Linked DNA regions of Homo sapiens: region 2 is linked to region 1. Evidence: fine-mapped expression QTL. A gene starts in region 1. The other region holds a variant in brackets. All regions are shown on one strand. Distances are between the middles of the regions. Region 1 holds the start of SYT1 (synaptotagmin 1). Region 2 overlaps SYT1 (synaptotagmin 1).

Region 1 (2,764 bases):
AGCTTATATCCCCAATGATGGAATTAGAGACTGCTGAAGCTGCTGTAAAGGCTCTGTCCAACAAGTACCATTTACTTGACCTATTATGCAGGCAGCCAGGGGCATGTTGGTGTTTTGATATATTTTTCTTTCTTTTAACAAGACGTTACAAAAATGTTTTCCCCTTCAGGATTTTTAAAATTTAGGGTATCTTTCTAGCATTACTTTCTAAACTTAGTTCCAGTACAGGAGGATTCTTGTCCAACTGAGCCTCCATGTGCCTTCTAAAGGGAGTGCTGAAATTGTATAAACATCATGTTTACATCCATTAAATATTGTCCTATTAAAAGAAAATAAAGCCAGGCATAAGTTTGGTATCCAGACAATAAAATGCAAATAGTACAAAGGTAGAATAAAGTGAAAATTCTACACAAATGTAGCTTCCATACAAAAGTTAAACAGTTGCTTTATTTCACGAAAGGGTTAATACTGGAGAAAGTGAATATCAACATGTACACAAAGCTAACTAGAAGATTAGCTTTCTCAAAGTAGAAATCCAAGCCTCCCTATAAAATTGTTGTCCCTTGCAAATGTTTTGAAACTTTACATTTTTTGATCCCCCAACAACAGGCCATACCAAGAAACCTCAGGAAAGTAATAATCTATTTTAATTGTTTTTTTTTTTTTGTTACTCAAGAAAGCTTTCAAAGTTCAGATATTAACACTGATGTGCAATACCAAATTGTTAGCCCCACAGGACAGATGGAAACAGGAAAAGTCAGATGGTTGGCACTCAAAAGCAAAAGCAATTAAGCAGTTGAAAGTGGGTTGGATTGTCGGTTTATTTTTGTTCCATTTGAACGAATCAAGTGAGAGACATAGACTCTTGCAAGGAGGAAATCAAGTCAAACTTGACGCTTCCTCTCTCTGACAGCCCAAGCTGGACTGGTTGTCTACTCCCCTTATTCAGTTTAATTGCTTTATGTGCTCTGATTTTCGCAGAGCTTGTATTCTATCTTGTTTACGTTCCCCCCCCCCCCCATATCCCTCTCCCCAACAGAAAGAAATCTTTCTCCTTTCTTCACTCCCCCTCTTTCCTCTAAGAAAGGCAATCCTCTCCAGGAGGAGAAAGAAACGCTGTGCGTGCTTAGGGTGGGAGGAGGGCGAGAGGGGAGGTGTGGGAGAGAAAGAGAGAAAAGATTGAGATTGGGGGTGGGGGACGGAGGAGAGAGAACAAGAGAAGGAAAGAGGAAGCAAGAAGATGGGGGATGCCCAACATCAACTCCAGGCTCTAAATCACGGGCGCTGTGCAAAGTGCTTTTCCAGGAGATGCACATGTAGTCTCATATTTCTCACAATAGGCCACCCGGGGATCCCTCCCTAGGTCTCAGACTCCCACCACTAAAACCCAAGTGTATCGAGAAGAAAATCTTTGGGATGGATTCGAGCAGATAGGCACCGCCGAGGTGGCCGCGCCGCCAGTCCCGCTTCCTTACCTGGAGGGCGGACCGGGAGGTGGTGCCGGGTCTCGGTCCCCAGTGCTCTCCCCGCGTGGACCGGCGCGAGGCACACGCGTACTCTCGCTGCCTCCGCTCTTGGAGGGGCAGCCTGCAACACAAAAGGGGTGTGTGGGTGTGGGTGTGTGGGAGGTTTTCCAGGGCCACCAGCTGGTCCCACGTGGTCGCCCCCACCCTACACACACCCCTTCGGGGCGCCAAGCCCCCCTCTCGGCTGAGCACCACCCTGGGGACTTGCCCGGGGTGCAGCCTCAAGTTGCCGCTGCTAACTGCTGCTGCCGCTGCCGCTGCTGCAGGAGGAGGTGGAAAGACACTGGGGGCAGTACTCGGTCTAGAGCATCCCCACACTGCAGCTTCTCCAGGAATCCCTCCAGTGAGGAGGCGGCCGCCCATCATCTCCGAGCCCCAGCATCCTGATTGGCTCCACCTCGGGTACGCTGCGCCAAGGAGCCAATCCCCGCGCACTAATAATAGGTGGATCCGTTCAGCCAACATCGCCCATCCCAGTTCTGTTAGTGTCTCTCCATCCCCACAGCGGACAGGGACCTGGGAAGCGGGGTGGAGGCGGGTTGGGGGAGGGGGTGAAGTAAGAGGGGAACAGATCCCAAGGAGACACAATCAAGGGCGTCTGATAAAACCTCTAGGTAGACTCAGGAATGCCCCACAAGCTGTTCAGCAAGCAGTATGCACAGGAGAAAGAGAGCATAATACAAAGCTTTTTTTTTTTTTTTTTTACTCTCAATCAAAACCTACCCTGATACTGAGCATGCCCAGACTGCAACAGCGACCTAGGAGTTTCGATGTGTGTGGGTTCGCCAGCTGTGGGTTTTTGAAAAGCTGGGACCGGGGACAGGAGAGGTAGAAGTTTGTCTTTGGCCATTTAACCCGGCGGAGTTGTGAAAGCTGGGTAGGGTGGGGATGTGAAAGGGTTCCGCACAAGTGTCCTCAAACTGAGCCGCGGGGAGGTGGCCCACCTGGCTGCCGGAGGCTCATCATGCTGTTCTTCTGGGGTTCCGGGTTGGAAGCGGGGGCGGGATAAGCTGAGCTTTGCTGGAAGCCTGGGGACTTCCCGCGAAGGGTGCGGTGGAGCCGAGATGCGGGAGAAGCAGCTCCGTCCCATAGGTGGGGCCGGGAGCGCGACTCCACCCATCAGCGGCGGCTGCCAGGCCGTGGAGAGTGCACTGGGAGTTTCCATTGCAGCGACCAATAAGTTTGTACACTTGGGTCAAGTGCAACATTGTTGGAGATGCTTTTTTATTTTTTCATTT
Region 2 (3,029 bases), 110 kb before region 1:
GGAAAGAAGATGAAAATGTTCCTAAAAGACATTAATGTAGAAGAGAACAAAATGGAAATATTTTAAGATCTGTATGGTAAGAATCATACTGCAAGGACATTAGGCACCTGCCCTTCATTGTAAAATGATTAAAATATCCAATGTAAATTAGTACTGTGGCAATTATTTCCTAGAAAACTGAAGTACTATCAATACTGGGTATATGCATTTCCAGAACCACTTTGTTTAAAAAGAAATCCATGTAAAGAAATAATGATAATTTGAAAAAAGTGTTTCAACAATAACAACTGTGATCCTACACTGTGGTATCTTACTGCAAGAGATAGGAGAAAGTTCTAGTACTGAAATAATTTATTCCTAAAAGGTGAAAAATATTATGATCCAGTATCGCATAAGCGTATAGGTACATTTACTTAATAAATAGGTTAATTTTATAGGAATATATAGTTGGTGTATTTCTATGTATTTTTGTATTGGCGATCCACTGTAGCAAACTTCCTCAGGGAAAAGAAAGTCTAAGATAGAAGTAGTAAAACAGAGTCTTAAAGACAGAGCTTCACACTGTAACACTATTTCTCCTGTATACAGTGGAAGTAATGTGAAAGGCTATTCTTTAGAAATCCAAACTTCTGTAGCATGGGACTCCAAATAAAGATCATGAGATAATCTAATCACCTCACGTTTACTTCATAGAATTGTGTGTATGCCTAATAAAAGTGTGTTAGAAATGACTTAGACCAAAGGAGTAATTTGATTGGTTAATGAAGAATGGTAATTGAATTTGATGGAATTCATTAGTTAAGACAAACAGATACTTTACAACCCAAATTATGTACTCTAACATATGTAATAGTCACAGTGTGATATATGTACTTCACTGTTGAATTAGCCATATATGAAAGAATGAGACACAGCATGGTACAAGGAAACATCAGTCTGAGACAAATTCTGCTCTCCCCTCTAACCCCTCACCCAATACTCGTGCTAAAATATCATCTGTGCAGCAGGCCACAAAAGCACAGAGGCAGATGCCATGGCATATTCTTTTAGAATGCAAGACTGCTCAAGATCATCTACAGATAATGAACCATGACAACTTTGGATTTGATAGAGTACAAAATGACAGTGGGAGAAAGCAAACATGTTATACAAGGAGCCAGTGCCCCACCAACGAAAACAGCATTTCAAAAACATTAATAATAGTAATAATTTCAGAATATGTGACAAACACTAATTTCCCCTTAATATCACAAGAATTTTTAAAGAGATACAGTTCTTCAATCTTCAGCACAAATACTACCCTTCCCTCCGCCGGCCCCGCCGCCACATATAAAAAGATATGGATGGATAAAGGAGGTTGATCATCAACAAAATGTGTCAAAAATTTGTTTTTTCCAAATACCTTAATCAGACAGTTCCAGTGCAATTTCCAGGAATGAGGCAGTAGACAAATGAGCAGTCTTCCAATCTGAGTCCAGGCGTTTGTTCAAGCTCTTGCTAGTTCTTGCTAGCTCTTGCTAGTTTTCCCGTTTTCCCTTGAGAGAGAGAGAATAATAGAATCTGTGAAAATGCTAGCCTGCAACTCTGCACACTGACTGGGTATAGACTTCTGCTTATTGACTGGGTATAGACTTCTGCTTATGCAGCCCATTC[G/A]TTATTCACATCCTGCTCTAGCTTCCTCAATTCCTGGTTGTGCTGGGTGCTCCAGGCTAAGAACCAATAGGTATGAATCATGCTGACATTTTAAAAAAATCTAGAAGAACAAACATTTCAAAAGAGCAACTTTTTCATATCATTCTGACATCTTCTGTTCAATGGCATTGGTCTATAGAGGAGAAGTAGCCTGTGCTGCCACAGAAGACACCCAGTGGAATTACCAACAGCAGGGAATTATCTAAGCAATTCACACTTTGTTTTGCTAACAAGACTCTATGTTAGGATACTGGAGTGCTATCCTTTTCTGGCAATGTTCTCCTACCTTTTCAGAATTATTGAAAAGCTAACTGAGTCTATTTTGATTTGTGAATCTCTTTGTGAGCAACAGCAGCTGCAGCAGTGCTAATAAAAAGGAAAGACATTGCTATTTACCTAGGAAGAACTTTGAAATACTGCACATACTAAAGCATCTGGGTGGTAGGGAAGCTCTATCAAATACTTCAATATTCCCTTCCTTCCTCACTTTCTTTGCCCTTTCGGGTTCCCTTCCTTCGCCTTTCTTTTACATTTTTTTCTCTTCTTTTTTCCCCATTCTTTCTTTTAAAATTTTTTTCTGTTCTCTTTAATGCACTCCCTATTGCATTCATCTACTTTTTTGATATAAAACTGCAAAAAATTTTGCCCCATATTTCTACTATCTTATATTTGATGGTTGAAAGTAATAATTTTAGAATATAGAAACTCTAAAAAACTGAGTTATAAAGTAGCATAATTCTTTCACAAATATAAAAACGCAGGTAGACAGAATTCACGTTATCAGCTGAATCCTGTAGACCAATTAAGAATTGAGGCTTTGCATAGTAGAGCATACATTAAAATCATATTGTATACCACTAGTTTATAAAATTTGTCATTTGTTAATTGAAATAAATAAATTATAAAAAAAATTTAGGTTTTGTCGATTCCAGTGACTCCAATACAAATCACATCGTTCTACTGTCTTTACAGTTTAGTTTTCAACTCTCCAGAGGAAGCTGACATGGCAACACTCTGTTATTTGAAGATTTGAGTTTTCCTACTACAAGGTAAATGAATACATAATACCATACAGCTTTCATTATATTCTGAATAGAATTTTACATTTCCCCTGCAGTTATTAAACCATTCTCTTCGCCAACCAGTGGATTGGAATGATTCTGGCATAAATCCATATAGAAAAACATGGGAATTTACAGGGTTTGGGAAAACGTAAGTCCTTAGTTTAAAGGAACAGATTCTTCACAAGAGAGTTTTATTCCCTGAATGGCTTCTGAGCAACATTTTGCCTGGCTGATACAGACAAGAAATAGTTGACTCCAGCTCAGGCTGCTTTT

The links.
Region 2: its variant is fine-mapped to the expression of SYT1 in monocytes after Pam3CSK4 (Quach 2016, PIP 0.95). The same link has a PIP of 0.9 or more in monocytes and monocytes after R848.

The regions. Positions count from the first base shown.
Region 1 is chr12:78,863,821-78,866,584 of GRCh38, reverse strand. SYT1 (synaptotagmin 1) reads right to left here and starts at 1,811. Exons shown (of 11, transcript NM_005639.3): 1 at 1,476-1,811.
Region 2 is chr12:78,976,305-78,979,333 of GRCh38, reverse strand. It overlaps SYT1 (synaptotagmin 1), which reads right to left. Exons shown (of 11, transcript NM_005639.3): 2 at 1,403-1,535. LOC105369863 (a long non-coding RNA gene) reads left to right here. Exons shown (of 7, transcript XR_007063385.1): 5 at 2,665-2,741. Among named protein-coding and RNA genes, the nearest start is that of SYT1, 110 kb to the right of the region's middle. The variant G/A (reference allele first, on the strand shown) is at 1,654.